Regions from separate parts of the Homo sapiens genome. Here regions 2, 3 and 4 are each linked to region 1. Evidence: fine-mapped expression QTL. A gene starts in region 1. Each other region holds a variant in brackets. All regions are shown on one strand. Distances are between the middles of the regions. Region 1 holds the start of RNF182 (ring finger protein 182). Region 2 overlaps RNF182 (ring finger protein 182). Region 3 has its middle 21 kb from the start of RNF182. Region 4 overlaps RNF182 (ring finger protein 182).

What was found.
Region 2: its variant is fine-mapped to the expression of RNF182 in whole blood (INTERVAL, PIP above 0.99).
Region 3: its variant is fine-mapped to the expression of RNF182 in whole blood (INTERVAL, PIP above 0.99).
Region 4: its variant is fine-mapped to the expression of RNF182 in whole blood (TOPMed, PIP above 0.99).

What each region holds. Positions count from the first base shown.
Region 1 is chr6:13,920,530-13,928,736 of GRCh38, forward strand. It overlaps RNF182 (ring finger protein 182), which reads left to right and starts at 4,423. Exons shown (of 3, transcript NM_152737.4): 1 at 4,423-4,494. RefSeq lists an enhancer at 3,318-3,818.
Region 2 is chr6:13,980,232-13,988,438 of GRCh38, forward strand. RNF182 (ring finger protein 182) reads left to right here. Exons shown (of 3, transcript NM_152737.4): 3 at 1-79. Among named protein-coding and RNA genes, the nearest start is that of RNF182, 59 kb to the left of the region's middle. RefSeq lists a cis regulatory region at 7,052-7,674. The variant T/C (reference allele first, on the strand shown) is at 4,749.
Region 3 is chr6:13,899,935-13,908,141 of GRCh38, forward strand. No RefSeq gene overlaps it. Among named protein-coding and RNA genes, the nearest start is that of RNF182, 21 kb to the right of the region's middle. The variant T/A (reference allele first, on the strand shown) is at 4,314.
Region 4 is chr6:13,960,927-13,969,133 of GRCh38, forward strand. All of the region lies in intron 1 of RNF182 (ring finger protein 182), which reads left to right. Among named protein-coding and RNA genes, the nearest start is that of RNF182, 40 kb to the left of the region's middle. The variant A/G (reference allele first, on the strand shown) is at 4,270.

The DNA.
Region 1 (8,207 bases):
ATAGACTCAGCTGAGATGTATTTTCTTTTTCAACCCTTCTAAATGGCTGGGCCTGGGATTTTCCCAGTCAAATTCAAAAGCTAGCCATGAAGAAAACTAATTTTAAGACATAAACAAGTATTTTAACATAACATCTAAGACATAAACAAGTATTTTTAAATGTGTCTTGAATGTATTCGTATCACCTCATTAAACAATGTCAGAACATGGCCAGAAGCCAGGAGTTGAAGGAGCCGTTGCTTAATGAGATAGTAATGAGCAAACATCGAAGCTTGCATTTTCCTTCTGCTTGTTCCAAAATGCATGACTTAGCGGGATAAGATATTTGAGCTCCAGCTCTTAAATAATTTTAAGATATTTCTTAGGATAGTTGCTTTTCCTTTTAGTGTTTGATTGTGTCAAGAAGTAAAGGTTAAGAAATGTTATTTTCCCCTTTATTGAAGCCGTAGGGTGTAGTGGTTAGTAGAGTAGTAATTCTGCTACTAAATAACTGTGTGACCTTGGACACAGTGTGCAATAAATGCCAGTTATGATTATGACGTATAATTGAGGAAAAAATAAGGATTTGAATAGACAAATTTCAAGTTAGGGAATAGGAAAATTTTTATACAAATGCTTTAGTAGGGATGTATTATTTACTTTAAATATTAGAAATTTGACTACAATAAATTGACTTTAAACCACTTGATAACATTTGCTGCATTTTGTTAAACCAAAAAAATTTAATATTTATCAAAATGAAATTATTATAGGTGCTGATCTTGTTATTGAAATTTCTGGTTTATTTTACTAACTTGAATCAAAATATCTCTTTAATTTTGATAACTTTATAGTCAGTTCAAGGGTAAAAAGAATGAACTTTTGATGACTCAGTTACAGTTCCAATCAGACCATTTAAAGGAAAATGAGAGATTTATCTCTATATATAGATGAAAGATTTATATATACATATATAGACTAACTTGAATTGAAGGTTAGTAGAGTAAGTGAGAGAGCTGGCCAGGCACAGTGGCTCACGCCTGTAATCCCAGCACTTTGGGAGGCCGAGGTGGGCAGATCATGAGGTCAGGAGATTGAGACCATCCTGGCTAACATGGTGAAATCCCATTTCTACTAAAAATACAAAAAATTAGCCGGACGTGGTGGTGGGCGCCTGTAGTCCCAGCTACTCGGGAGGCTGAGGCAGGAGAATGGCGTGAACTTGGGAGGAGGAGCTTGCAGTGAGTGGAGATTGTGCCACTGCACTCCAGCCTGGGCAACAGAGTGAGACTCCGTCTCAAAAAAAAAAAAAAAGTGAGAGAACCAACAAAGTATAATAATAAAAGTAATAATAGTTAACATTTATTCAGCATTGTAGACAATCAAGCATCTAATTTTTACAACTCAAGGAGGTAAGTATTATTATAATCCCTATTTTATAGGTAAGGAAACTGAGGAACAGATGTATTAAATTGCTTGCTGAGGTCATGTAGTTGATAAACAGAGCTGAGATTCAGGTCCAGGTAATCTGACTTTAGTGTCTGTGCTAAAATCTTTCTAAAATATAAAAGCATAAGCTAATGCTTGCATATAATAGGATTCTAATAAGTTGAAATTATTTAACAGAAATTGCCATACTGTGGCATCTTTATGAGTTGGGGAGCATTAATAAGGTAATTACATTTTAACTAAAAGTTAAGAAGAATAGCTAACTTTAGATTTCTTAATGATATTTTGCTATAAACACTAATTCTAAAACAGAGCTGTCCAAAATGTCACATATATAATTTATAATTTTCTAATAATCATGTTAAAAAAGTGGAAAGGAACAAAAGTTAATGATTTTAATAACATCTTTTATTTAACTCAATAAATTCAAAATATATTTTAACATGTAACCAATATAAACATTATTAATAAGATATTATTTTTTTAAAGTTATTGTTCCAAGTCTTTGAAATCTGGTGTGTATTTTGCACTTACTGAACATACCAATTCAGTAGCTAATTCATATGTGGCTAGCAGTTACTGAATTAGACTGTGCAGCTCTAGATCTTTTTAGGAAAGCAAATTCATTATTTTAACCTCATTTCAAAAATGGTGAGAATAAGAAAGACTAGTCATGTATCCACACATTAATTTTTAAGCTTTAGTATCTTCAGTTTCAGTTTAGCTAAACAGACTAAAAGCTGCCACTTAACCTATTCAAATGATATCCCCTGGTAAGTAAGGTGGCACATTTTAAGATGGTTTCCTGACAAGTCTTTTAATTTTCTCCAAGAGGCAGAATGGAAGCAGACCTTAAGATAAAGCTAAACCTCTTTTGGAAAAATGAATGTCTGGAAGAATGTCTCACAGAATAACGCAGGACCAGGTCACTAAGCAATGCTCTAAGTGGGGACACAACGTGGACTTTTCCAAGCCTTCAGCTGAGGGCAGGGATGGCCAAGTCAATGGTCCCTCCCTGTTCTGTATTCAGTTTTTGATCAGGCAGTAATGTGCATGCAGGTCAACAAACATTTATTAAAGCTTTTTGTTTTTGCTTCTTCATTGATAAATTACTAATAAATGCTCATTTGAAAAAGCCAAACAAACCAAATATGTGTACTAAATTGTACATCGTAAGAGGTAACTGTCCCTTCAATTTTTTTTGTAGTTAACAGGTTACCACTTCTAGCAATTAGGTAGGCATTCTTATAGACCTTTATCCCTATGTTTTTGTTCTGTTCCTATATATCCAGTTTTTTTGTACAGAATGGGATCACCCACACATACGGTTCTGAGCCCCCCTTTTCCATTTAATAAGAAATCAATATCTATGAATTTTATATATTTTATTCTTATTAATGGATGCATAGTATTACATGGTATGAAGTGCCACATTATTTAACCATATCACTATTGATGGGCATATAAGTTGTTTCAAACATTTACTATTACAAAACTTCTGCAATGCATATCCTTTTATATCTATCATTACACATTTGTGTGTTTCTGTATGACAGATCTCTAGAATTGAGATAGCTGGGAGAAATGTATGTGCATTTTGAATTCTGGCAGGTATTGCCAAATGCTTAATGGCCTGCCAAAAAGACCTTGTCTTTTGACTTCATCTGGAATATTATTGACTTCATTCAGAATATTCCCATTACAAGAAAGTGGCCAGTCTCTCCGAGGAACAAACTGTTTTCCTTTTCCACCATGAAATAGATCTTATCTTTTCATTAGTTAATATAGGTGTACCTTCAAATGGCAATAACATTGTTCTGCTTTGTGGCTTCTCAAGTAGTAAACCCAGAAAACATCAGCTACCGTGGATTTTATTATAAATCATTGACATTCCTTTGGTGATTCACAAATGCCAAAAAATAAATGTCATGTTCCCCAGGGTTTGAAGAAAGACACTGTAGCTTTTGGATTCAGCAACGGATCTTTCAAGAAAACAGTATGGAGGGATGACTCACTCCCCCCATGGAGGCTGCCCTCTAGTTCGTCCTTTAGAGGAAGCATGACCAAGGGTCTGCTGGTACTTTTCTCTCCCTCTCTAAGAATTTCCTCAGGAGAGGAAAAAGTTAGCTTTCTTTTCTCTGCTCCTGAGTGCCATGGCCTGCAGTACGTGACCAGTCCTTGGCACAGAGTCACTCAGGGCTCATGGTAGATGCTTAGCGGTCACAGCCAGTAGCTGCGCAGTGTGGCAGCAGCTGAGATCCATACTGCAGCCTGAAAGTTGTGTTTCAGCTTCTGAGGTTACAAGTGTATCCAGTGTTTACATCAGAGATAAAGCCCCCTTTCCCCTCTCTCCTACGGGAGCCCTCAACAAGACAGATACACGGGTTGGGTGGAGTGAGACCACATCCAGCAGAGGCAAAGCTTGCTAAAAGAGAGAGGAGGAGGAGGGGGAGAGGGAGGAGGCGGCACGGCGTCCCTTGGCAGCTCCGTGCATGCTGCGGCAGTTGCAACAGGAGAACCGAGTACCAGTTGCTCAACACTTTATCACTTTGCATTGCTCTTTCTCCTCCCTTAAGTGAATTTCCATTTTGAGGGTACAGCTCCACAGGAGAAAGGTGTGGTGGTGGTAGTGGTGGAGGGTGTCTGTGGGGGGGATGGTGGTGCGACGGGAGTTGGAATGTCCAGTGTGGGGAAGCAAAGGAGTGCCTACTAGGATGCGAATACCACTTGGCCCTGGGCTCGCTCCGCTTTAGCCTTCCCCTCTCGCTGGGGAGAAACAGGCGGTTTGTGAGGGAGACTGAGAGAGGGGCGTGTTTGTGGTGGTGGCGGCCCATCGGGGGTCCTTGTCCTCTCCGAATACCCGGACTGCTGAGGGGAAGGGCCGGGGGGGCCCCGGCGGTTGCCATGGTGACGCAGGGTCGGCGGCTCAGCGCCGTAGAGACAAAGCCGCCCGCCCGCCAGCCCGCTAGCTCCTCGCGCGAGCTCCTCCTCCACGGGAACCTCCCTCCCCTCCCAGGCGCCGCCGCAGCCGGAGCGGCTCCCGGGCCCTGGGCCGCCGCCGGCCAGGTAAGGCGATCGCGCCCGCGGCCGGGGAGGGGTCGGCGGGACGCCGGGCCTCCCCAACGCTGGGGCAGCAGCCAGCCCCGCAGTCCTGGACGGCGCCGGGCCGCCCAAGCGCGCCGAGGAGAGGGGGCGGCAAACTTCGGGCCGAGCGGCGCCGGGGCCCGCGCGCGGAGTCTCCCTCCGGGCACCACGGGGGCCGCCGTCCTGGCACCAACTTGAGGGGCTGTGCGGCGGAGGGCGGCTGCGGAGCGCCCGCGCGGGCTGCACCTGCTCAGGGAGCTGCCCCTCTGTTGTTGTTGTTATTTTCCTTCTTGGCGTGCCATCGAGGCTTTTGGGGGAAAAAAAGGTATGAAAGTATTTACCTTTGGACTTTCATGTTTCATGGCATTCTCTTTGAGGAGGGGTTGGGAGGGTAGTAAGAGGGACAAGCGAAAGATTTTTACGAATCTCTGAAAAGTGAGCCCATTTTTATGCCTGTGGCTGAAGCATTTTGAGGAGGCTTCTGAAGTTCGTTTGGATATTGAATCGAAAGACCTTTTTTTCTTTGGAAGGTGCAGTTGCACCTATAACTGGATGGTAAGGGTAGCCCGGCTTTCCCCGACTAGCAAGACCAGAATGTAGAGCAGTACCGATACTTTGTCAAGGAGATACTTGGCACCGAGGTCATTGCTTTTGTTTCTAGAAGGTATTGTGTTCATGCTGTAAGGAACTGGAAAGTGCCTTTTGTTTTTATGTGTAGGGAGGCAATCCAAAGCACCTCTGGAGGCAGGTAGCTGGGCGGTGTTTGCATCGGTGTTTATGAGTGGGATGATGAGGACCACGATGCGGTTGCCACTGGGGCACTGGATAGGTTATAGGTACCTTTCTCAGTGGCCCCAACCCTTGCAATCATTTCGTGATAGTTTGTTGCAGACGCGAAGCACAGATTTAAATTGTGACTGTGAAGACTTTTTTTTTTGGTACTTAGACATCATCTTACATGTAGTAATATGAAAGAAAACAGATACATTTTCAGAAATACAGTTGATCAATTCAGAAGGAAATTGTATATATGTTAATAAGATTTGTTTTAAATCATATTTAAACAATATGAGATGTCATATTGATAACTGGAAAATAATCTAACATATAAAATTGTATATCCAACTTAGTAAAATAATGTATAAGTTGGAATAGGTCATTTAAAGAACTATATGGAATGCAAGAAATTATATTTTTGCTAGAGAGTAATTAATGAAAACAGTACCACTGATCATTTTGAATTGCAGTTAAGTTGATTGGAATTCTGCATATTACAGCTACTTGAGGTGTCAGGCAAAGAGTGATTATTTAATATTCCTCTTCCCTCTTTTGGGATTTCAACACCTGTTAGCCTGCTGATTACTAGGTTTCTCAGTCTGTTCATATTTGCCAGCAACTTCAAGTAATGCCACTTCATTAGAAGATTGTATTGGAAACTAAAGGATTGAAGTTGCAATTAACAGTTTGCAGGTTATTTCACAATTGGGCTTGTTTTTAAACTGAATTTTACCTGTGGAAGATTCACAGATGCTCTGCTAAATACTCTTTCATGACGGTAATAAAATCGTACATTGATTAAAACGAAGTAGATCTGTTTTGAGAAGATAAACGGGAGAGAAAAGTATTTTCTCACTTAAGCATGAACAGCAAATAGGATATTGAAGCCTAGGCACATTATATAGACAGAGAATGTAGTTTTATGTTTTGTACTAAAAATAAATTATTTTGTGTGTTTGTGTGTGTGTGTGTGTTTTTTTTTTTTTCCTGAGGGACCAACAGAACAGCTTTATTCAGATCTTTGTTAGCAAAACCAGTATTCAAGTTCAAGGACTTGGTCCGTGCTTTCTGCCAGATGAAACCCACACTGTGAGTTCTAGCCTAAACATTTATGTTGTGGCCCTTAATCTGAGTGCTGAAGAACGGAGATATCCATGGTGAATTTAGCACAGTAAGGACCGGTGCTTTGCCTTTGCTGCTAGCTCACACGGGCACAACATTCAATATAGTTTGGCTTCTTCAGAGCTGCATCATTTTCTGCCAAAAAATAAAGTCGGTATACAGAAATCAACAATCATGTATTGCATGCACTGCTTGGTTGTAGTGGCTTATTAATAAGAGCTCCGAAGCATGAAATGAAGCTTGTGTCAGTGCAGTGGAAAACAATAATCTGGCATGTTTATATGTGTTACTAGTGTTCTGAGGTATGTGCATAACCAGATAATGAAAGAAAAAATACTATGATATCTGCAATATGTCCTTAGAAAATGCAAACAGCAATTGTGTTTTCTGTCCATGGTTTAGCCACCTGGTGGAAGCAGGCAACAGCATTGCATATCCCCAGGTGTAAAATACTAGTCATCACTCTTGCTGATTCACGGGAGTAGGAGTCTTTTCCTGCATTTTAGCTTACGGGTTTTAATTTTATGACGTAAAATTGGTCCTAATTTTTGGTATAAGCTGTAAAATATGGCCTGATAATTGTCACCATAGCTGTATTCTACCTGAAAGAATTCTGTAATTCAGTTTATGAAGCATATCCAAAGACAAAAAAAAGCCACAAATGTTCCTGTTTAAGTTAGGATTAACATTATGTTTGTGCCATTGAAAGTCAGTTGTTTGTAACCATATAAGCCTGCATAGGCAGCCTAAATAAAGCCACTGAAGCCTTTATTGACTGTTTCTGGGTCAACATTCTCTTGCAATTTCTAGTTGCACTGTGATAACATGATTACTGGTTGGTAATTTAGCATCTAGTGCAATGTGTTGTAGCATTTATAAAAGCACATTTGTGAAGGATGGTAGTTTTTAAATGATTTCTTCATTACCAAAACACTTAGATTTAGATTTGTGGCTGGGGAGAATAGTGTGGCCCTGAGACCTCAAGACAAAATGCTGTAAATATCAGGTATTGTTAACTGACCTGCTGTGCACAGTGGGTATTTGTCAGAACTACTGTGCTGAGAAAAGGCACAGGAGACACATGGTCATGGTGATAGGTTGTGGTGTTTAGTGACATGGATTATTAATAGTGATTGATAGAAGCTGAAAAACTTTTGTGGACGTGTGTTTCATTTTTCATGTTTTCAATTAAAATGGAGATAAGATGTCTTAAGCTGTTTGGTAAGCCACAAGTGCTTGGGGAAAATGTATACTTTTATACAGTATTGTACATAATTTAAGTGATATAAACATAGTTCAAGATAAACGATTGTTTTCCTGATGTGCCAATTTTTTGTAGCAGTTATGGAGTATGGTTTTGGACATCAGTCATCAAATGTTTATCAAATGCTTCCTTCTATATATTCTATGTTGCTTGATGAAAGTCAACCAACCTCTTATAGTTGGGGACTTACTTGTTTCTCAGCTATTAGGATTATTTATTTTATATGTAATTCTTAATGTATGATACCCAAATACTCTCCTTTGTTTTCAGCCTTCCTTTTTTCAAAAGTTACCAGTTAATTTTGTAATGTTTTTTTAAAAAGTTTTATATTTCCAGAGCTTATTTTAAAAATGATTTGGTTAATTTGTAATTTGATCAGAAAATAGTGGGCATAAAAAACACATTATAATCTTTATATTTTGCATTTTGAGTATTTATAGACATGGTTTGTTGGATAGTAGAATCTGGGATCCTGTTAGGTGATTGCTTATTTCCATACATGTTTTGAACTTGATCCTTGCTTCTGTATCTT
Region 2 (8,207 bases), 60 kb after region 1:
TTTTATTTTATTTATTTATTTTAAAGCAGGGGAGAAAAATTAGGGGAGATGAAATAAAAATATCGTCTTTATAAATAAATTCTTCGGTTTTAGTTTGTTTGATTTCATTTCCAGGTTTTTGCCTAACTACTCAACAAAATAGAATCCAACTTAGTTGGGAAATCACTTACCTTGTATGGTCTGGGAAAATTTTAAAAATCACATGGCATCTAACTATGACCATTGTTAGGCAAAGTAGAAATAATTTGGGAATATGCAGCAGTTTTATGCTTATGATAATTAGTGAATTGGCAAGAATAATGGTTTCATTCACTTCTGAAATGTTTATGTAAATGAGCAAAGAATCAGCTTAAAGAAAGCAGTTACCTGTATTGGTCATAACTTACAGGGTGAACTCATGCATATCTGCCGAGAGACTTGAAAGTGATATGTATTTGCCAGATTGTAAACAGATACTAGGCTTCGAAGACACCTTGAAGAAATGTCTTAGTATGTCAACCAGGTAGTCCCAAAGCCAAATGAATCCTGGTATCGATAGGCAAACTGATATAGCCATTATGAATATGAGCTCTGGAGTAGCTCATATTTATAGTTCATGAGATACAGATGAGATGCAAATGAGTTAGAGAGAGTATCATGCAAGCAAACTACGATTTTATGTTTCTGCATTTTTTGAGACTTGCTCTTTTTGCCTACTCTTCTTGGTAAAAAATACCTCAACTTGATTCCTTGGAAATGCCATAGAAACACCACATATTATTCCAGAGCTTTACTCAAAACCTGTGAGAGTCTTGGTATGGTCCCTGAAAGAGTTTAACCATTTGCTCTCCAAGTTAGAGTTTTGTGTGCTTTCTACATCTTTGCCCTTTTATTAAATTATTCTCTCTACTTCAATACCCTTTATGAATTTTTACTCCTTTGTGAGGAACTGTAGGCTTAGTATTGGGTCTTTCCTTACACATTTATTTTTGTGTAAGAGAGATTTAAAAAATGTGAATGTTGAAATTTGAGTAAATTCCAAATGAGTCCTGGAGGTAATACAGATTCAACCCAGTTCCTGATATCATTTCATACTGTGGTAGACTCCAAATCTGCATATACTCAGTGTGCAGACATTTATGGTTCTGACATGAAGGTGCTTTAAGCTTATGAATAAAAGAATCAAAAATTAAATTACATCCTGAACACTGTGTATACTAAGTAGGGATCTGTGCTAATGTATTTTTAAAAGTGTTAAACCTTGATTTAATTAAAACATCAATTAACTGAAAAGTCACAAGCATTTTAATTAAGAGTTTATTAGATTTGTAACATATTAACACTTTAAATTGAGAAGGTTGGAATTTCACAGGAGAAAGAATATGCTCTGACAGTAGGTGGTTTTAGATCTTGTTTTTCGCATGAAGTGTAAGGAAAGTTTCTTTGTACATTCACGTTCACATTACATTTACATTCTTATTACCCCAGATAAGAGGTCTGGCCTGAAGACATAGCTTTGGGAGTCTTTAGCAATTCTTCTTTTTTATAGTCTATTTTTAAGATTTTTAAATTGAAATATAATTGTATATATGTAGTACATAGTGGTGTTTTGATACATATAATGTATAGTGATCAGATCAGGCTAATTAGCATAGCCATCTCACACATTTTTCATTTTTTTGTTGGGAATATTCACTATCCTCCTTCTAGCTATTTAAAACTATATAATCTATTGTTAACTAGGGTCATCCTACAGTGTTATGGAATACTAGAACTTACTCCTCCCATCGAGCTGTAATTCTGTATCCTTGAACAAATTTCTCCCCATCTCTCCCTTCCCTCTACGCTGCCTGCCTCTGGTATTCTGTTCTGCTTTTTACTTCTATGAGAACAACTTTTTTTTTTTAGCTTCCATAGATGAGTGAGAACACCGGTATTTAACTTTCTGTTCCTGGCTTACTTCACTTAACATAAGGTCCTCCAGTTCCATCCATGTTGCCACAAATGATAGGATTTCATTATGTTTTATGTCTGAATAGGATTCCATTGTGTACTATACCACATTTTCTTTATCCATTCATCTGTTCTTAGATACCTAGGTTGACTCCATATCTTGGCTATTGTGAACAGTGCTGCAGTAAACATGGGGTGCAGATGTCTCTTCCATACACTGATTTCTTTCCTTTGGATAAATGCTCTGGATTGCTGGATCACAGTCTTATTAGTTTTTTGAGGATCCTATTCTCCACAGCGACTGTACTATTCTCCCTAGTGACTGTACTAGTTTATATTTCCACCAACAGTGTATTTCAATAGCAGCTGAAGGTGAGGGGGTAGAGAAATGTTGAGGCCCAGAGAGGACTGAGAGGCTGAGCTCTCCAGGCTATAACTCTGAATGCTCAGTAGGGCAGTGGGCACAGCCACTGTCATGGTGCAACCAGAGGGGGAGAATGGACACCAGAGGCAGTGGTCATGGGAGCAAGGATGAGGGGGGAGTTAGGATGATTGGGTGAACACAACAGAAGTAGATTGGATGGTGAAAGAAAGAAAGGTTCTTCAAGCTTATTTCACGAAGATTTTCAAAGATACAGAAAAGTTGAGAAAATAGAATAATTATCACCTGTACACTTATCACTTAGAGTCAATTGTTAACCTTTTGCAATATTTGTTTTCTATCACCCTTAAAAATAAAGAACTTCCCTCTAATTTGACTAAAACATTATTATATTATCTCAGACAATTAAAAATACCTTTCTAATATCATTTTGTATACATTTTTCTCAAATTTTTCTATTCTCAAATATGTTTTGTAACTTAAAAAAAAAAACTCAACCAACAAAAATAAAAAAAAAATACCGGGATCTGGTCTAGTCTCACACATTGCCTTTGATTTTTTTATATCTTTATTCTCTCCTTCTGGAATAGTCACCCCACCTTGTTTTCCCCATAACCTTGACTTCTTGAAGAAAGCAAACCAGTTACCTTGTATGATGTCCCGCATTCTGTATTTGGTGGTGTTTAATTTCTGTTACCTGTATTTTCTGTAAGCCAAAAATCTATAAGCTTGATTGGACTCAGATTTTGGGCAACAAGTTGTCTTAGTCACCTTTGTATCACATCACATTTGGAGGCATAAAATGAAAGGTTGCCCTCCCATTCAAAACACTCAGTTTGATCACTCAGTTAAGGTGGTCTCTACTTCCCCTGTGCAACTGTAAAAAAAATCCATGGGGTGACACTTTGGATCCATGCAAATATTCTCTTCCCTAACAATTTTCACCTGATGGTTTTAACAGCCAATAATGATCCTTGCACGAATCAACTACAGGTACTTCGTTTTCCAAAGATTTGGAGTGTTATTCTAGTGAGAACTAACTCCCGCCTCGACTGTCAGCTGTGTAATGGAGGAAATAGAACCATAGGAGCCAACCCTTGTCTAAAGCTTCAGTAAATCTTAAGGTTTGAATGCATCTTTATAGTTACCCAATTATTGAAGGCATAAACTGGAATGAAAATCACAATCTTTTATCTTCCAATGTACTTTCTATGATCTCAGAGGAGAAAGAAGCCCAAATCATCTGTGAAGTACCTTTTTTTAACCTTTAAATAATTCACTGGACTCTAGCCTTGAACTGTCCACTCTCAACCAATCTCTTGTTGAACATTTCATAGGCAGCTCTCTGTTCATCTGCTGAATCATTACTTCCTTGAAGACTATGTACTCCTTATTCTCAATCTTTGTCAAATCTTAAATTCTTTGCTTTAGACAGCTCTCTTTCCTTGTTATTCTAGTAATTTAGTCTGTTTTTCAGAGTGATCCTGTTTGCCCAGAATAACCTCTTGCCTATTGTCTGACCATTTCATCTCTTCTTAAAATCCCTGCCAGGCAGTGGGTTCCTCCACAGCATTCACTGTGTGTTCCCAGTCTTGATACTCTGCTGGAACTTTTCTGTATATCCACTCCCTGTTGTTAGATCTTTTTCATTCTTCATAGCAGCAAGTAGAATGCATGCAGGGCATCTATCAAGTCATACAATAAATTCTGTAGTCTTTAGATAATGTTTTCAAACTTTTAGTAAGCATTATTTTTAGTACATATATGCTGTGTAATTCTAAACTTAACACTTGCCCCTAATTCTTGCCAATACAGTCCCAATTTGGTTGAGCCAATCACGAATTATGTCTTGGTTAACAGATGTATACTGGACTAAAGTCAGATAATTCTGAGTTGGCTTAATGGTAAATCCTTCTCAGTAGTTCCGAATAAGTTAAACTTTTTATTGTTCCGTGCCTACAAATAAGAGAGCTCATCTTTTAACATAGCATTTCAAAAGAGTTAAAGTGACACTTTAGCTATGAAATGTTATTTTTAATGCCACATAACACCATTAGTCAATAAATGAACATCTGTTTTTGCTATGTGCTGAGCCAAAACCTCCTGCGCTCTTTGTTTCTTCCCCCATTTCCTCTGATTTCTTTAATGTCACTTAGGACATTAGTGACCTAACGCAGTCACTGCCACCTTCCTCCACACCTCCTGTACACACACACGCTTTATATTTCAGGAAACAAAGCTCTGTGAAAGAGAACCACATTAGTCTTCCACTAGCTGGGGATTATCCATTTAAGTATTATTTTAAAATATTTTTGTGATGACTAACAACTACATTTATGACTTCTTGTAGAACAATGGATTCGGCTGCTTGTCTCAGAGGTAATTGTGCCCTCTTTTGCAATATTCACCATAGCTGAGCAATGGAGATTTTTCC[T/C]AGCTAAATGATGGAATGGTTGTTGACAGTGATTCCATTTGACGGTTTTTTGTGTTTTTTTTGGTTTTGTTTTGTTTTTGTTTAGACGGAATCTCGCTCTGTCGCCAGGCTGGAGGGCAGTGACGCAATCTAGGCTCACTGAAACCTCCGCCTCCTGGGTTCAAGTGATTCTCTTGCCTCAGCCTCCCTTGTAGCTGGGACTACAGGCATGTGCCACCACACCCAGCTAATTTTTGTATTTTTAGTAGAGACAGGGTTTCACCATGTTGGCCAGGATAATCTCAATCCCCTGACCTCGTGATCTGCCCGCCTTGGCTTCCCAAAGTGCTGGGACTACAGGCCTGAGCCACCACGCCTGACCTGATGTGATTTTTTTTTTTTCCAAGAGATTCCAGTTTGAACTGTGTATTTCTATGGTTAAATTTACTGTCATTACAAATTTTATTGTTGGTTAGAATTTTAAAAATTATGAAATTATTTCTAGCCTATAATTTGACCAACTCTTAATCACCAGTTAAGAGGGAATAAACAATATGCCCTACTTTTGTGGGATTTTTCTGTTGCCAGAGTGGAGAACGGAGAAGTGGTCATTGGGAGACCAAAGAATATTAAATTCTGTCCTTGAAACGGGAGGAAGGTGGCACTGCTAATTACCAGACTTTTGATATAGTTTGGATACTTACTTGTCCCCCGAAACCTCATGTTAAATATTTGATCCCAATGTTGGAGGTGGAGCCTAACAAAAGGTTTGAGTCATGGGGTGGATCCCTCATGAATGGTTTGGTGCCGTTCTTCTCCTGCTAGAGGGTGAGTTCTTGCTCTGTTAGGTTCCCCAAGAGCTGGTTGTTAAAGGAGCCTGGCACTTCCCCCTTCTCCCTTGCTTCCTCTCTGGCCATGTGATCTCTGCACACACAGGCTCCCCTTTGCCTTCTGTCATGAGTGGAAGCAGCCTGAGGACTTCACCAGAAGCTGAGCAGACACTGGTGCCATTCTTCTTGTACAGCCTACAGAACTGTGAGCCAAACATATCTCTTTTCCTTATACATTACCCAGCCTCGGGTATTCCTTTATAGTAATGCAAAAATGGATGAAGACAACCCTCTTTCCTACTTACAGCTTTATATCCCAAATGGGAACCTTGCCAAAGTTTTTGATACGAAACCTAAAGATTCATTATTTTAACTCAAATATTGACTACTTATGATGCATAACATATAAATATTTCTTGATTCTTTGACAAGATATCCATACATGTCACAACTCATTGGAAGGATATAAAGACAAGTATAATGTTTCCAAGGTGTATCTGATTAAAGCAGTAGTTTCAAAATATATGACATAAAACATGTCTCAGTAGCTGGCCCAGGAAAGGAGGACTTCCTGGCTGTGCCTGCTCAGAAGCTGTGCCTATGCATCTTTCTTTTAGAGATTCTCATGAGTGTTGCTGCAGGAAAGGGCCTGAGAAGTCATTTGGTTAAAGAAACTTATTTAGCAGTCCAATCCAATGTTTCCCCCAAACTATGTAACCATGGAAATCTTTCTCAAAACATCTATTAATATTTTGTGGAATTAGTGTTCTGTGGAGCATATTTTGTGAACTCTGCAATACAGAATTGATAAAAGTCATAATATAGAATCTGAAGGCAGACAGAAATCACGAAACCAGTGCATGAATCTAAAAGGCAGTCAAAAAGTCACAATTAGGCAGTGCATCCCAGGAGAGTGGCAAAGTGCAAAGGGGCAAAGGAACAGACCACCAGGAGCATGGATAGTGAAGGAGTATTGATCCCTACACTTGTTCCCAACATAAAACAATTTACAATGAACAATTCTTGTCAGACTTTCATGGAATGACATATTCAAGCTTTGTCTCTAGCCCCTACTAAATATCTAAATATATGTAGAAGGAGATTTCAAGTGGAATAATTAAGTGCTAGTTATTTTTTGAGCCTATGAAACTTCCACAGCTAATTCTCAGAATAGACCTAATATTCCAACTGTTGGAAAACATGTACCAGATTTTTAAAGTTTTGGTCATTGAACGTTAGGGCTGGAAAGATTTTATATATCAGAGGCCAACTGCCTTGTTTTAAATTATCAAACCAACACGTAGACACTGCCTTGTTTTAAATGATTAAACCCACACTTATAAGCTGCCTTGTTTTAAATGATGAAACCAACACTTAGAAATGATCCCTCTCACAAAGGCGAGAGATAGGTTCTAATAAGGACCACTGAAGTCCCAGTCTGCTTTTTACCCTACACTCCCCTGTCTCTTTGTCAATAGCCGTCAATTTATTTTTCCCACATGGGTTACTGAATTTTATGGACAACAAAATATGCAGTGGGACAGAGATTATTTTATGCTTAGAAGCTATGTCTAGCTACAAAAATATGTAATGAGGATATGAAATAATCACCTACATTCTTCAACATCCCATTTTGTTCTCGAGAAGTAAGGTCAAAGCATGTGAGAAGTGAAAACTTATTCATAAGCAGACACAGAGCTTTATCATATACAAGCAGACGGCTGTAGTCATTAGGGAAAGGAAGAGCGTTGAGGTGAGAGGTCAGTACTTGAGTGACAAATGATCAGAATCAGGAGGCTTTCACATAATCTTTCCTTACCCTGTGCAGCACCCTAATCTAGACCCTTACCTGGATAGTTGCAATCATCTTTGAGGCAATTTTACTGCATCGTGTAAAGAGCACCCTATGACATTCTGACCTCCTCGGTACCTGGGATCATGATCAGATCCAGGAAGATGATGTTTGCATGCCCTGCTCCCTCAGTGCATGGACCTCCACTCTGGTGATGGGTCCCGACGCCGTCCTCTCACTCACTCGCTCTCATCACCCATGCATGCTCTCGAGTGGCTTGCGTTTTGGCTTTTACAACTTCACTGAAACTGCTTTCTCAGAGGGACTGATAGCTCTTCAAAAAAGTAACTTCTATTTTTATTAAAATTGTACATCTTCATGGTATTAAAAGTTACATAGTATTAAGCACTTTTAATGAAAAACAGGTGCCTCTGAACCATCCTTCCCTGTCCTCCTAAGGGCAACCACTTTCTACTCTTAAATATTTCTTTCTCTTTACTTCCATATTTCTGAAAATTGTACTTATATGATAATTTCTTAATTTTTTTTCAATTTTAGCCATTATCTATCGATATTCTATTGTGGAAAATGACTTAATTTTCTTATGACCTTCCCTACACACACACACACACACACACACACACACACTCTTTCACTTCTTACATGTTCCCAATATAATTATATCACAATTCTTGGTAAAATCAACATTTGGTGTTTAGATTGTTATGACTATCTAATATCACTCATAGCTGAGGTTCTAGTGTATTGTGAATACATTTTCTTTCATATACAACTTTTTGTTTTCCCTGGAATTAATTGCCTCATTTTAGAATTTGCTTAGTTTTCTTTGTATGTATA
Region 3 (8,207 bases), 21 kb before region 1:
TTAGCAGAGCTGTAGGAGCAACCAAAGAAAATTGTAGACTAGGCTGGGCATCGTGGCTCACACCTGTGATCCCAGCACTTTGGGAGGCCAAGGTGGGAGGATTGCTTGAGCCCAGGAATTTGAGACCAGACTGGAAACATAGTGAGATCTTGTCTCTACAAGCAAAAAATTAAAAAATAAAAATTAGAAAAAGAGAAAATTGTAGGCTAGATACTATGACGTGGCTAACACAATGCCTAGCTTATAGTTGGCAGGGTAAAAATGGTAATTATTCCTTTATATTTTCTTTTTCTTTTTTTTTTTTTTCTTTTTGAGACAGTCTCACTCTGTCACCCAGGCTGGAGTGCAATGGCGCAATGGCGCAATCTCTGCTCACTGCAACCTCCACCTCCCAGGTTCAAGCAATTCTTGTGCCTCAGCCTCCTCAGTAGCTGGGACTACAGGTGTGCACCACCGTGCCTGGATACTTTTTGTATTTTTAGTAGAGATGGGGTTTTGCCATGTTGGCCAGGTTGGTCTCCTGACTTAAGGTGATCTGCCCGCCTCAGCCTCCCAAAGTGCTGGGATTATAGGTGTGAGCCACCGTGCCTGGCCTCTATATTTTCAAGTCAAAAGGATTCAAGTACATTTCCTGACTATTGACCTTTTTAAAATCAATTTACAGAGGTTCAGTATTGCTCCTTTTGATAATGGCAGCTCACTTTAGGGCACATATTGTTAGGAATACTTTTGGCTGTAAGTAACGTAATACCAATAAGTAGTAGCTCATGCTACGAAGTATTGAATTATCTCCCTTAACAAGAAGTTTGGGGGTGGGCATTTCCAAATTTGGTGCAGCAGCTCAAGTGTCTTCAAGGACACTTCAAGGACACTTCCTACTATCGTTCTGCTCTGCTGTTCCAAGCATGTGCTTTTTCATGCTAAGCTATGCTGCTTCATGGTTGCCAGATAATACAACAGCTCCAGACATTGTGACTACATTGAAGGTAACAAACAAGTGGAAGGGGTGGCAAAGTCCTTTCTTCTTCTTCTTTTTTTTTTTTTTTTTTTTTTTGAGATGGAGTCTCGCTCTGTCGCCCAGGCTGGAGTGCAGTGGCGCGATCTCGGCTCACTGCAAGCTCCGCCTCCCGGGTTCACGCCATTCTCCTGCCTCAGCCTCCCGAGTAGCTGGGACTACAGGAGCCCACCACCTCGCCCGGCTAATTTTTTGTATTTTTAGTAGAGACGGGGTTTCACCGTGTTAGCTAGGATGGTCTCAATCATCTGACCTCGTGATCCACCCGCCTCAGCCTCCCAGAGTGCTGGGATTACAGGCGTGAGCCACCGCGCCCGGCCCACAGAGTCCTTTCTTCTTATTAGAGGTCCTTTTTAAGGGAGATAAAATGTGTTTCCTATAATCCCTGTTCCCCCAACGAGCAAACCTTTAGCCAGAACTGGGTTATATAGCTGCTACTCTGGCTGAAAAGTAGGTTGGCAAGGCAAGTTTCTGAGGCTTTTATCCTTTATAATTTGAGGCAGGTAAGGAACAAACGGGCAGAGAATGGTTTTGAACTAGGAAGCCAACAGCGTCTGTTACAGTGGGGATGTTGGATGGAGGGGAAAAAAAGTAATTTTACCTTTCCACTTTTCTGGTGATATGTTTTGATACAATTAAGTGGTTGGAGAAGCAACAATTTCTTTTAAACTGTGATTTAGGCTTATAAGTTTAGAGCTGAAATATTTATTTTTATGATATTTTCAGCATATAGCATAAGCAAATCATATACATTTTTCCCGTAATATAAAAAACACTGACAACAATGTCTCATTTGTTTGCTTCCTGGTGTTTAATTATACATATAAAAGTCAACTTCCAGGCAGGGTGCAAATCAGAAAATCTAGCCAGCCCGTGAGCTTCAGGCCTGACTTCCTTTCTCCTTCTCTTAAGTGCTGTCCAGATCTGAACAACTCCTAGAGAGAAGAGGCAATGCTGAGTTCAGGCTTCTTCCAGGAATAATCGAATACACTTGGAGGTGGCCATGCTCATGAGGGCTGCATATTTTGGGAGAAGTGTTTTCCTCATTGCAAGAACGGGGATAAGACAGTCAAGTAACATATTTTGAGTGCCAGTCCCATGGACCCTTATTCCAAGATAGGAAAAAAAAAAAGAAGAAGAAGAAGAAGAAAAAGAGATCTGTTATTCCTTAGTAAAAACTCACTATCTTGGGATTGTATCTATTTCCCAGGAGGCATTAGAAATCTGTAGTAGAGGCCGGGTGCGGTGGCTCATGCCTGTAATCCCAGCACTTTGGGAGGCTGAGGCGGGTGGATCACGAAGTCAGGAGATCGAGACCATCCTGGCTAACACGGTGAAACCCCGTCTCTACTAAAAATACAAAAAAATTAGCCGGGCGTTGTGGCGGGCACCTGTAGTCCCAGCTACTCAGGAGGCTGAGGCAGGAGAATGGCGTGAACCCGAGAGGTGGAGCTTGCAGTGAGCCAAGATTGCGCCACTGCACTCCAGCCTGGGCGACAGAGCAAAAGTCCGTCTCAAAAAAAAAATAAATCTGTAGTAGAGGGTGGGTGCAGTGGCTCATGTCTGTAATCCCAGCACTTTGGGAGGCTGAGGTGGGAGGATCACTTGAGCTTAGGAGTTCAAGACCAGCCTGGGCAACATGGCAAAACACCATCTCTACAAAAAATAGAAAAAATTAGCCAGGCGCAGTGGTGTACGCCAGTAGCCCCAGCTACATGGGAGGCTGAGGTGGGAGGATTGATGGAGCTCAGGAGGTTGAGGCTGCAGTGAACGAAGATCATGCCACTGCACTGCAGCCTGGACGAGAGAGACCTTGTCTCAATAACATAAAATAAAAATAAAAAAGGAAAATCTGCTGCAGAAATGCTCTGGACTGTGGTACCTGACAAATTGGGACCTCTGACAGTGTCCGGTTTCCTCCTCCAGCCCCAGCCTAACCCTGTAGGCGGCAGAGATGTTAAAGACACGTGCGAGTCTGAGAAAGTAGACAGCAGAGACATCCCTCGGGAAAGTGAGGATGGGACCTGGTGGGGGAAGAAACGAGAGAGAGGCAGAAGACATTTGTGCGCATCAGTTTGGGAGAAGTTGACCACAATCTCTTTTTCCCCCTGCTCTATTGCCTTGGGAAACTCACAGCTTGCCACCTGTGGGATGAACAGCAGTGTCCGTTCCGTGCTGTGGACATGGGGTAGAGATAACATCAGGGAGACAGTGGAGCTGGCTGATGGGTCCACTAGTGAGCGTTCCTTCCTCTCTTGTTCCCCCTCCACACCCTGAGCAGTAGATGATTACAATCAGGGGGAAATTTATCTTGAAGAGCAATGCCTGGGTTGGAGAACAAAAAGCTTGTCTGAAGGTCAGGATTGTGCTGAAGACGGGGCAGTGAAGAAGGGATGTGTGTGTATGTGTGTGTGTGTGTGTGTAGGAGACAGTGATGAAACAAACTCAGATTATGATTCAGGGGTCTTTCTACCTTGTCCTGGGCCATGTCCTTGCCCTCCTTAAATCTAACAAGAGTGCCATATGCTAGGGCCTCCCACAAGATCCACATTTCTGGGCAACGTGAAGGTGTGAGGAAAATGAGCTGAGGGACATCTGGGGAGCATGGCACAGTGAGAAACAACATGCGAAGCAAGCAGAGAATGAGGGCTCACCAAATGCTTTTGTGCTCATCTGCCACGTTCCAGCCTCCCTTGCAGTTGGTTTGGGGCCACTTGGCTAGTTCTAGCTAATGGGATGTGTGTAGAAGTGAGTTCTCTGTGTTTTATTTTTGTTTTTGCTACTATTTTTGTGACTTGCAGTGAAGAACTTTAAGACAGTGCAGTTGTAATGTGAAGTAGTCTGGGTCACAGTTGCTAGAGAGCAAGGAAAGCCATGCAACTGTGAGTGAGAAATAAAAATTTGTTGTGTGAGCCACTGAAATTTCCAGGATTGCTCATTACTGCAGCATATCTTGCCCGTCCTGTCGTATTGCTGTAGGAACCAGAAATAATCACATAGACCAAGAATTTAAAATAAGCACAAAAAGAACTTCAAAGAAGTGATTGGATATTTGTGATGATGCAGAGATAAGAAGTTATAAAGGACCACATGCTGGAGATATTGATTATATTAAAAATAATGGTTAAAATCGACCTGAGAGATGGGATACATAGTGGAAAGTGTATACAGTAGTTGAAGAATTGATTAATGAGCTGCAATATCAGATCAAGAAACAACCCCGGAAGGCAACACAGTGTGGACAGAAAATGAGGGGGAAAAGTTAAAACAAAACAAAACGGAAGAGGGGCAATACAGG[T/A]GATTTATGATCATGAACTATGAATTGACTACAAGGAACTTTACAAAAAATGGAGAAAAGAGAAAGTAAACACAGAACTGGCCTCATGAGATCTATGTTCTGGCCCTGACTCTGGTGCTAGCTTGCTGTGTATCTTGGGCAAATCATTCAGCCCTCTGAAGCTTCATGTCCTTAACCTACAAACTCCTAAAGAGTAAGAGTGGTTTGGTAGAAAGAGTTAGATGGCCTGGGACTGAATCTTTTTTTTTTTTTTGGCAGGGTCTCACTGTTGCCCGGGCTGGAGTGCTGTGGCGTGATCATGGCTTGTGGCTCACCAGTCTCAATCTCCTCAGGCTCAGGTGATCAGCCTCCTGGGTAGCTGGGACTACAGGTGTATGCCACCTTGCTCAGCTAATTTTTTTTTTTTTTTTTTTTTTTTTTTAGAGATGAGGTCTTGAACTCCTGGGCTTAAGAAATCCACCCACCTCAGCCTCCCAAAGTGATCACAGGCATGAGCCACCTCTCCTGGCCCTGGGAATAAATCTTAACTTTGTCACTACCTTGGTCTACTTCTGACTCTCTTAGAATATTAATTTCTTTTATGTCAACTAAAGGTAATATACCTATCTAGTATGTTCCTGGCACACAGCAGATACCTCACTATACTTCCCATTTCCTTCATTTTAGGAAAATTCTAAGACTAAAATTAAGATTCTTGTTCAACACAGTACCCTCACAGGTGAAGACACTGAAAAAATAGAGAAGTAAATAACTGGCACAAAGCATATTCACCAAGGAGATGTCTGCCTCGTGACTGGTATTCAATTCTCTTGATGTGGAAATTGTTGATCCCCCCAACAATCACTTCTTGCTGTCTTGTGAAGCTAAAGCTTAGTCATAAGAAGAATCTATCTTCTTTTGTGGAAATCTTATTTCTTATAAATTATTCAGTCTCTCATTCAGCCTAATGAAGTAGTTGAATTTCACAGAAACCGAGTGAGAGGTGAGTGGTTGCTCCAGAACAGCAGAAAAGCTAGTGGCAGTGGCTTGGAACACACCTTTCCTCAACACGAAGCCAAGGGTCAAATGAAAGAAAAAATGTGAATACATTTATATGTCTGGCCAGTGATTAAAAAAATGTTGCTCTTTTTAATATCTCATCAACATCAATGATTACATTCTTTTCTGGTGCAAATGTAGTAAGTGGTTAATTTGAAAGTATAAAAATGTGTAAGGAAGAAAAATAACCAAGAGTGATACCATTTAAACGATATTACTTAGCGCTGGTATATTTCTTTCTATTTTCTTTTCCATTAAGATATTTACCAAGCACATTTGAATGTATAATTTTATATTTTGCCATTTATCCTTAACATTATAACAGAGGCACACAAGGCGTTTTGCATCTTGTTTTTTTTCCATTTATTGTGATATCTTTGACATCTTGTCACATTGGCATATGTAGACTTACCTCATTCTTTTTAATAGCTGTATGGTATGAACATAACACAGTTTTTTTAATGAACACAATGTTATTTCATAGTCTTCTTTACCATTGAGATATTTACCAAGCATATTTAAATATTTAATTTTATATTTTTCCATTTATCCTTGACATTATAAGCATTTCATGTTATTTCATAGTCACAATATTATCACAATGTTGAATGGCTGTATAATATTTTATTGCAAATGGCAGTTTAACTCTTCTATTAATAATTTGGTTTGCTTCCAACTTTTTGCATTATATCGGTAATGTAACAAATATCTTCATGAGTAAAGTTTTTTTGTATTAAAGTTTACTGGGCTAAAGAATATAAACATTTGTAATGCTTGTGACACACAGTACTTCTCCAAAAGGATCATATTCAGTTTACATATAAAGTGTCATTTTAAACTTTCAGTTTAATTATTCTAATTTTAAATTTATTTATTATACTTATTTATATTTAAAACAAAATAAAACAAGCATTTCTTAAATTACAGATCATTGTCAACATTTTACATGGTGCCGAGATGTATAAAGTTTAAAGTGAGGCTGGGCGCAGTGGCTCATGCCTGTAATCCCAGCACTTTGGGAGGCTGAGGCAGCCGGATCATTTGAGGTGAGGAGTTCGAGACCAGCCTGACCACATGGTGAAACCCTGTCTCTACTAAAAATACAAAAATTAGCTGGGTGTGGTGATGGGCGCCTGTAATCTCAGCTACTCAGGAAGCTGAGGCAGGAGAATTGCTTAAACCAGGGAGGCGGAGGTGGCAGTGAGCCGAGAACGCTCCACTGCACTCCAGCCTGGGTGACAGAGTAAGACTCTGTCTCAAAAAATAAAAAATAAAGTGAAATTATCCCATAATGTTATTTCCCAATGTAATTACTGTTTATAGTTTATTGTATATTCTTCCAAAATTTTTGATATGCATATACTGACATTTATTGCAGTCATTCTCTGTATTAAAAACACGCATGGCGTTTTGCATCTTGTTTTTTTTTCCATTTATTGTGATATCTTTGACATCTTGTCACACTGGCATATGTAGATTTACCTCATTCTTTTTAATAGCTGTATGGTATGAACATAACACAATTTTTTTTATCCCATCTTTGATGGACAGTTGGGCTTGTTCCAAGTTTTTTCCTGTTACAGACAATACTGCAATGAGAGTTCATGTATATATGGTTTAATGAGCATTTACTGCTGTGAAAATGTGACTTTGGAAATTGTTGGCAAGATGATTCTCTCAGTGTGCTGAAACATACAATATTGAAACATCATTTAAAATTTTAAATTTGAATTGAGTCATTGTCATTAAAACCAGGTTAAAATCACAGTGATCTTTTCCTCTTATATAGGAATGAATCCTCTTGCTCCAGATGGAACATAAAGCTCCTTAAATTGAAATTCATTGCACGGGGGCTCTGATGGCCCTTAACAGATGGAAGAACAATCTCATTTGGGTGGTTATGTAATTCAGTGATTATCATGGAACCCTTCAGATACCATCAGACAGAAGGTGGACAGAGTGAGGCTCTGCGGCAAAGGCAGGTGCCATGGCTATAGATTCACTATACTTGTTTCTCTGCATTTATTTGCATCAATAAGACCAGAATCAAGATCTGAGCAGTATAACATGATCTGGTCTAATGACCAACTTTGGAATCTCAGAAATCAAACATTGGGATGCCAGTTGGAATTCAACTAGTTTCTAGTTAAACAACCTTGAGAGGGTCGTTCCATCTCTCTGAAAGCCTTATTTGTACAAGTATGCTAGACAATGCCTCTAGAAGGAGGTTATGATATTAATATTCATTCAATAGATATTAGTTGAGGATTATGTGGCAAGAACTTTTCTGGGTTCTAGAAATACAAGTGTCAATAACATAGATGAGAATCTATTTTTATTTTTCTCAAAGGTGACATTGTTACCTGCCTTAACTGAAAGTAATCAACTGATCTGCTTGGATTTAACCAACTAAGTTTAGCTTTTATGCATTGCATTTTCTTGGTAATGCAGGCTTGCACCAAGGCAGACTATTAGCCAAATCGAAAGATCCTGTTTGAGCTTATCTATTCAACAAAGTACTATTTCTCCTGCCTTATATTATGGCTAAATTTAGAACTCATCATTTCAACACACACTGAAACAAACCAACCTACCTTCCTTCCTTCCTTCCTTCCTTCCTTCCTTCCTTCCTTCCTTCCTTCCTTCCTTCCCTCCTTCCTTCCTTCCTTCCCTCCCTCCCTTCCTCCCCTCCTCCCTCCCTTCCTCATTCCCTTCCTCCCTCCCTTCCTACCTTCCTCCTGCAACAATGCCCAGAACAAGCATCAAGAGCAGCAACTGGCACATAGTAGTACAAAATAAATTTGATCGACTAGATTTCTACAAATATTTATTGTCTAAATTTCATGCAATAGAATG
Region 4 (8,207 bases), 40 kb after region 1:
TCATTCTTAATAATCTAATTTTCAGGCCATATTCTTATTAATCATGATCTTAAATTATATCTTTGTTTGCATCTTCCAAATAAAGAGTAAGGTACTAAGCAAAAACCTAGACTTATGAGCTTTATATATTATTTGTTGGCGTTCCATATAGATAATATAAACAAAAGAGAAATAATGACATTTCCCTCTCAGCTTATCAGGTAGCGGAAGTTATTACAACATTGGTAAATTGTGCTTTACTTGCTGTACTTACTATCTGCTCTATCTATAGACAGAAAACCTGTATACCTTCTGATACTGTGTTCAATGCATATTCTGTCTACTACCAATTTAGAATGCTGAAGTACCATATCAATGGATCCATTATTTCTAAATTTCTAGTCGCATCCATATAGTGCTTATGTATGTAAAGTATTTACACCTAAATGATTCCATTGAATCCTCACAACCACTTTGTGAGGCAGGTGTTGTCTTTTAGTCCAAGATCACAGTGTCAGAGCCAGGTCCCAAATCTCGGTCTCCTGACTCTAGATGCTATGTGCTTCCATTGTAGACTGCCTGCAAGGGATGGTCATACTCCTGGCTGCACTTCCAGAGTCTTGAAGAAGAAAGCAGATGTGGATACCTAAATATAGGGTGCGGAGTACCTGGTTTTTTTCTCTCTTATTCCTGAACATTTATTGGTTTAAAACTGCTGGCAAACAGCACAGCATAAATCACAACTCCATATATAAAAATAGTGGCCTCTCTTCCAAAATTAATAACTTAGATTGCTAGGTTATTAACTTGGCTGTATCCTAATAAATAGATTATGACTCTCCATCAAATTAAATTGCATGTTCTTGGAGGAGGGGGGAGGTAAGAGTTTTAATTGTTGAGGGAGGCTTTCTGGAATTGCTCCTTATGCTGCCAAACAACCATTAGGGGTTATGGGTATTGTGGGTTAAATTCTTCTAGAGTCAGCTGATGGTCCTTCAAGAATGAGTACTTGGCATTTGTTGAGCCTATTCTTTTTAGGATTTTTGAGTTGGAGACTTTTATTATAGTGAGAAGGATTTTTTTGAATGGCATTTTAATGAAAGGCATAGTTTTTAATGAAAGGCATAGTAAAACCCTTAATTCTGAGACCATCGTCTCTACAAAGTTCAACTATTGTTAATGCTCACTAAGGGATAACTGATAATTGGGACTGAGGCCAACATATTATTGTTAGTAATTATTAACAGTAATGAGAGTCTTTTAAGCTCTAACTAGAATCCAGCTTCTGAATCTCTAGGTGGAAAAACTGGACTTTCTTGGAGGTAGATGCCACATGTGTGGTTTAAGCTTAATTTGAGACTCAAGCTCCATAAATAATGAGGTTAGGAACATCGGGTTTTGTGAATGAGCAATTGGGTGTCAGAGAGATGGCAAGCATGTGTACTTTATCAATAGCTGAGCGTAAAAACCAATGTTCTGCCTTGATAGTCACAAAGAAAAATGATGCTACAAGTGCTAGAATCTCTCATATGTTTTTGAAGATAGAGTTATTAGTCAAAGAATTTAAGACATCATAGAAACTGATAATCAAGAAGTGAAAGTGTTTGAAGAGTGATTCTCCATTTTGCACAAAATAAATTGAACATAGAAGCAGGTATTTAGCACCATTTATAAAAACAGAAACCATAGTTAATGAAAATGACAATACCTTAACTTCTATCAGTTTTCTTGTTACAGAGCCATTTAAAATATATTGTCTCATCATCTAGAAAGCAGTGTTTACAACATTTATTTTCCAGGATGGGAGGAATATTTTGGAAATGAGAGTTGAAATTTGACAGTTGTCTTTTCATAAGGGGAAAAATATAATCTCTCCTGTTGATGCCGCATTAAAATGGTTGATGGATTCTATAAGAATGATTCAGGCTACATGAAACTGTATATGAAATATTTTGAAGAAACTCAACTTACCCTAAGACCTATACAATTAATTCATATGGACAGTGGAGTAATACATAGCATAGAGCCCTGGATAGATAATAGGATCACAGTGACAGCTCTGTTTTTTGTTTTGTTTTTTTGAGCTCTACTTATTTTGACTTTTTTTGTCCTGACTTCTTATGTAATCTTAGGAAAGATACTTCAATGGATGTTCATATGCCTATTAAGTGGGAATTATAATTTCCCCTTACTGTAGTAGAGCTTATGCAGTGTTTCTAAAATTTTTGAGCTTTTTAAAAAGACTTGAATTAATAGAAGTTATCATAATACAAATTATTAAAGTTTATGCATGGAAGAATACATAGAAACTGTATTTTGACTGACAGAACTTGCAAGATGTATGGATTGGACAGCTTCAAAGTTCATAAAAGAGTCTTCTAGGTAGGCATGATACTCATTGATAAATGAGGGAAATAATTTCTTTGGGCAGAGATTGGCTTTGGATTAATTTGGAAAGAAATAGCATGCTATTTTGCTTATCTATTGTTACAAAAGCACCTCAAAACTAGTGGCTGGAAACAACAGCCATTTTATTGGTTCATGAGTCTGTGGCTCAGCATTTTCTACTGGGCTCAGTGGGGCACATTCTTCAGCTGTTCTTTCATGGTGCTACTCATTCAAACAGGTGTTGTCCCTGGTGGTTAGTTGAGGCTGGATGGTCTCTAATGGTCTCACATGACTAGAGTTGGTGCTGGCTTTTGTCTGGGCCTTTCTCTCTATGGTTTCTCATCTTCAGAGAGGCTAGCCTGGGCTTCTTTGATGGTGGTCTCAGAATTCCAAGAGAGCAAGAGCAGAAGCTTCAAGACACCCTGAGGTCAGAAATTTGCTTCACACTCTTAATGTTGGTCAAAGCAAGTCACAAGGCCAAGATTTAAGGGGTGGGGAAAAACAGATTCCTCTACTTGTTGATCAGATGAAAAGAAGATCACATTGTAGAAAGTATTTGTACAGGTCTGTGGAGAATTATTGCAGCCATATTTGCAGACAAGTTGCCACACATGATAGGGGCTAGGGCAAAGAGTATTTAGGGGAGATGGTTTAGTAATAAATTAAAAAATTTGAAATTGAAGGGTAATATCATGAAAAAGTGGGGAAGAAGACCCAAAAACAGTTCAAGATCCAAACAGCAAAGACTCAAGACAATCTCAGTTAAGAAAAACACGAATTTTTTAAAATGTAAAAAAAAAAAAAGAATCATTATCTAACTAGTATATAGAAATACAGGTCTTTGAATTAAAAGGTAGAACTTGAAAGGCATTATTTAGGAAAGATAGCCAAAGGCAAAGGAAAATGATTCTCATACCCTTGAGTGTCCAGTTTATGGATTCTTAGAATGAGACAGTTTGATATAGAGGAAGTAAAAAATAATAATATGCAAAAAGGAGAATTCTAAAAAGTGAATTTCAGAAACAGTTAACTTAGGGATGAGTATCAGTTTGGTACATATCTTTATGTAATAGCCGCTGAACATGCTTAGTATTGCCAATGTTCTGCCCAAATTAAACTTTTATCACAAATTTCCATTTTTCCATCTAGGTAAATATTTGGGAAAAACTCCAGGAATTATAGTTGGCAAGGATTCTTGAAAGATAGCAAGCTAAAGTGGCTTGCTATCTTGCTCTCTCAATTCTACTCTATCTGCCTTTCCTGATCCCAACGACTCCTGGAGCCAGCAGACCCCTGAGTGCAAGTGAAACCCCAAGCTTTGTGAAAGCTGAGGGTGGGGAGTGGGGAGCAGATGGGGGATTCCTTCCTAGGCTTGGCTGGTACCGAGGGCTGGCATCCATTTGATGAGTCCCACCAGAAGATCAGGATGCACTGGATACTGTGATGAACTTGACCTACAGAGGGTGGGGACTCCTGGGAGGAAAACTGAAACTCACCCTCACCCCATAGTGTGTGTGTTCCACAAGAGACCAAGGAGAAAAATCCATAGTTGGGTGCGTCCTTTGGAGCAGGAGACCTTGGAAGGGTCCTGGCAGCCCACCTGCTGTCACACTGCTAGATCACAGGAGAAGAGACCATTGTGTTTCACCCTACTCATAGAACTTCAGTTCCATGGGTCCTTCAACAATCAGACCTGAACCCCAGTGATATAACAAAGAAAAATATTGGCACTGTAGCCAAAGGGAAGGCAGTCTATGAGAACAGACAGAACTCACGCTGAATGTGATGGAGCGGCAGCCAGAGACAGATGACAACCTGACAAAAAATAGAAAGAGCACATAAGGAGATGCAGATGCAGCACAAGAAGACTTTCTAGAGATGAAATGCATGATTTCCCCATCA[A/G]ACATTTTAGTAAATGAACTGAAGGTGATAATGATCATTCTTGGGGCTTGATTTGGTAGCCTAGTTGGTCAGCTAGAAGAATCTGAAAGTACAGAACAAAAATATAAAGGAATGGAAACCACAAAAGAAAATAGATCCAGGAAATATAACATGTGAGTAACAGGAAAGCCAGAAAGAGAAAAAGGAACAGATGGAGGAAAGGCAATAATTAAGTAAATATAAGAAACAAATTTTTTGAGCTTAAAAATCAGGACTTGAGTCTGTAAATTCAAATAGCTTATTAAGTTCCAGGCAAAATTTATGAAAAAAGACACTCTGGATTTATTGGAAAAGTTCTTGAACTATATATTAAGAATAAGAGGCAAAATCTTAGAAGCTTCTAGACAGAGCAAATTACTTACCATGAAGAAGTATCACACTAGCAGCAGATTTCTCATCTGTGACACAGAAAACTAGAAATAGTAATTTCTGCAGGCCATGGAGATGTTACCAAAATACCAAGGGTTTGGTCTAGGCCCTACTTGCTCACCACACAGAAAGCCAATCACGAGACGATGAGTATTGCCAAGGAAGAAGGCTTTAATTGGGTGCTGGGGCTGAGGAGATGGGAGATCCTTCTCAAATCCATCTCTCTGACAGACTAAAACCGAGGGCTTATATAGCAGGGCAGAAATGTAACAATGTATAAGAAAACAGGAACTAGAGAGGGGCAAGGAAGCAATCATGATCAGTGAGGGGCCCCTCAAGGATCTGGTGTGGTGATCTGGTGAGTTTCAGTTCTTTGATACTTTTTTTTGAGTGGACTGGAAGTACTCTCCTGAGGACGGAGCTCAGATAAAACAAATACAAGTTTTAAGCTTTAAGACAAGAAAGGGCAATCTATGTTTATACAAAAGAATAGTCTATAGGACTACTGGGTTGGTTTCAGAGAGAAAAAAGACAGCAGCCAGAAAATCCCATACATTTCCCTGTCAGGAGGAAATTTATTACTACATAAGAATTTAGAAATATCATCACCTATTTTCTGACAAAGATACTCAATAATACAAAGAAAAAGTAACTGAACAAAAAGTTAACCAGAAACACAGACCTTGAGATACAGGAAGATGACAGGAGGGAAATATTTGGAATTGAATCAAATAAATCAAGTGAGGAGGAAAGAATGAGTTAATATATAACAGCCTTTACATTAAAGGTGAATGAACTTGGAAAATTCACAAATTTTTAGAATTCATTAGATGTTTTAATTGGAAAATTGTCAGACTGAGTTAAAAACCAAAACCCAGGTCAGGCATGGTGGCTCATACCTGTAATCCCAGCACTTTGGGAGGCCAAGGTAGGTGGATCGCTTGAGTACAGGAGTTTGAGACCAGCCTGGGCAACATGGCAAAACCCCGTCTCTACTAAAAATACAAAAATTAGCTAAGCGTGGTGGCGCACACCTGTAATCTCAGCTACTTGGGAGGCTGAGGCGGGAAGATTGCTTGACCCCGCGGGGTGGAGGTTACAGTGAGCTGAGATCATGCCACTGCACTCCAGCCTGGGCGACAGATCAGGAACCTGTCCCCACCCCCCCACCCCCCCACCAAAAAAAAGTAAAACCCAGTAGTATGCTGTTTTGTGTGTGTGCGCGTGCGTGTGTGTGTGTGTGTGTGTGTTTTCAAACATGCTCTCTCTGTTGCCCAGGCTGGAGTGCAGTGGTGCAATCATAGCTTACTGCAGCCTCGGCCTCCTGGACTCAAGTGAGCCTCCCATCTCAGCCTTCTGAGTAGCTGGGACCACAGGCGTGCACCACCACGCCTGGCTAATTTTTGTATGTTTTTGTAGAGACAGAGCTTTGCCTTGTTTCCTAGGCTGGTCTCCAACTCTTGGGCTCAAGTGATCCACCTATCTTGGCCTCCCAAAGTGCTGGGATTACAGGCTGTGTACCACATCTCTGGCAGCTGTTTATAAGAAACATTCGAGATAAAGTAATTGAAGATGGAGTTGAAAGGATGCACATACATCCCAGGCAAATGCGGAGTCAATAGAACAAGTAATATAAGCTTTAGATAAGGTATAAAGGTTGATATTTAAGTTAAAGGCATAAATAGGATAAGGAAAGACATTATATAATGACAAAAAGAGGCAGAGTTTATGAAGAAAATAAAGTTGTATATGTAAGCTAACATAGCCACTAACTCTGTAAAACAAAACTGTTAGAAATGCAAATATAGTTATAGTGAGACACTTAAATAAACCTCTCTCACTTGTTTTGACCTGTGATAACCTTGCACATACCTTGATGATTCAGAAATTGAATAAATTAAAAAGTTAGGTTTAATAGGTATTCTAGAACCACACAGAATATTTCTTTCTAGACTACTTAGAAAAATATACTTTACCACAAAGAGCACCATAATAAATTAAAAGGAAAAGATTTTCTTATAGATTTTGTTCTCTGATCATAATCCCGTACTATTAGAAATTACATATGGCAATAAAAAATAAATTTTATTTAGAAATTTAAGAAAAGTATATAACCTTTTTAAAATTTATTAATTTTTTTTTAAAAAATAGAGATGGAGTCTAATATTGCCCTGGCTAGTCTCAAACTCCTAAGGCTCAAGTGATTCTCTACCCTCAGCCTCCTGGAATTACAGGCGTGAGCCACCATGCCTGGCCCTGTATTACCTTTATATCAAAGGAGAAATCAAAGGTCAAATCACAAGCCATCTAGAAATCAATAAAAGGTACACAATCTATTCCACAAGCTATGGGATAGAGTGAAAGCTGTAGCCAGTGGAAACACTATAGTCTTTAGCTATTTTCAGTATTTAAGCATAAAGACAAAGTGTACTCTTAGTATGAATTGGGAAAAAAATCATAACAAACAAAAATAAATTAGAGGGAATAATAAAGATAAAAGCTGAAATTAATGAAATTAAAAGTAACAGAAAGGATAAATACATATATTAGTTGGTCTTTGAAAAGCACAGTAAAATAGTTTGATTAGGTAATTAATAAGGAGTAAAACAATTTAGAAGACTATAAGTGAGAAAAGAAACAATCAGGGGCAGAGGTGATGCAAAGACGATAACAGAATTTGCGGAACTCTACAGCAATGAATTTGAAAACCCAGAAGAAATGGATTTTTTCTTTGTCAAATATAAATGTCTAAATTTAACTGAGGAAGAAATGAACATTTGAATAGGACAGTAACCCTAAAAGAGATGGAAAAATGATTAAAGATCTACTACTGCAAATGACAATGGAATCATATGAAATTACAGCTGAGTTTTATGTAACTTTTAAAGAACACATAATTTTATCAGTATTTAAACTGTTCCAGAAGATGAATAGCTCGTGTTTCACTTATAAAATAAGCATACAGTTAATACCAAAACCTAACAGCACAAAAAAGTCTAGAGACCAATTTAATTTTCAGTACAGATGTAAAGTTTCTCTAAGATTTCATTTGGGGTGGTATTCAGGCTGATACTGGTGGAGGAGAAAAGAACCAAATAAAAAAGAATGCACACACACAAAGGCCACTAATAAATAAATAAATATGTCTGATGACCTTTGTGTATTTATATATGTAAATGTGTTTATGTGTACATGTGCATGCATGTGTGCACGTGTGCAAATGAAATCTTAGAGAATGCCTATTGCCTGTGAGTTTTGTTGAATTATTTATTTATATAAATTTCTGTAATACTAAGTAGGAACCTAGATCTAAAAACACAATAAATTCTCAACGTCAAGTACAGCATGGTAACTGTATTAGGGCACTTTGGGTTGTAAGTAACAGAAATCCATCCAGAAAACTAGCATAAGCAAAAAAAGGAATTTATTGGCTCACAGAAACCTTCATACATTATTGACTTCAGAAACTCAGTTCAGGTCTCATCAGGCTTGTCTCTGTTTTTTGTTGTTGTTGTTGTTGTTGTTGTTGT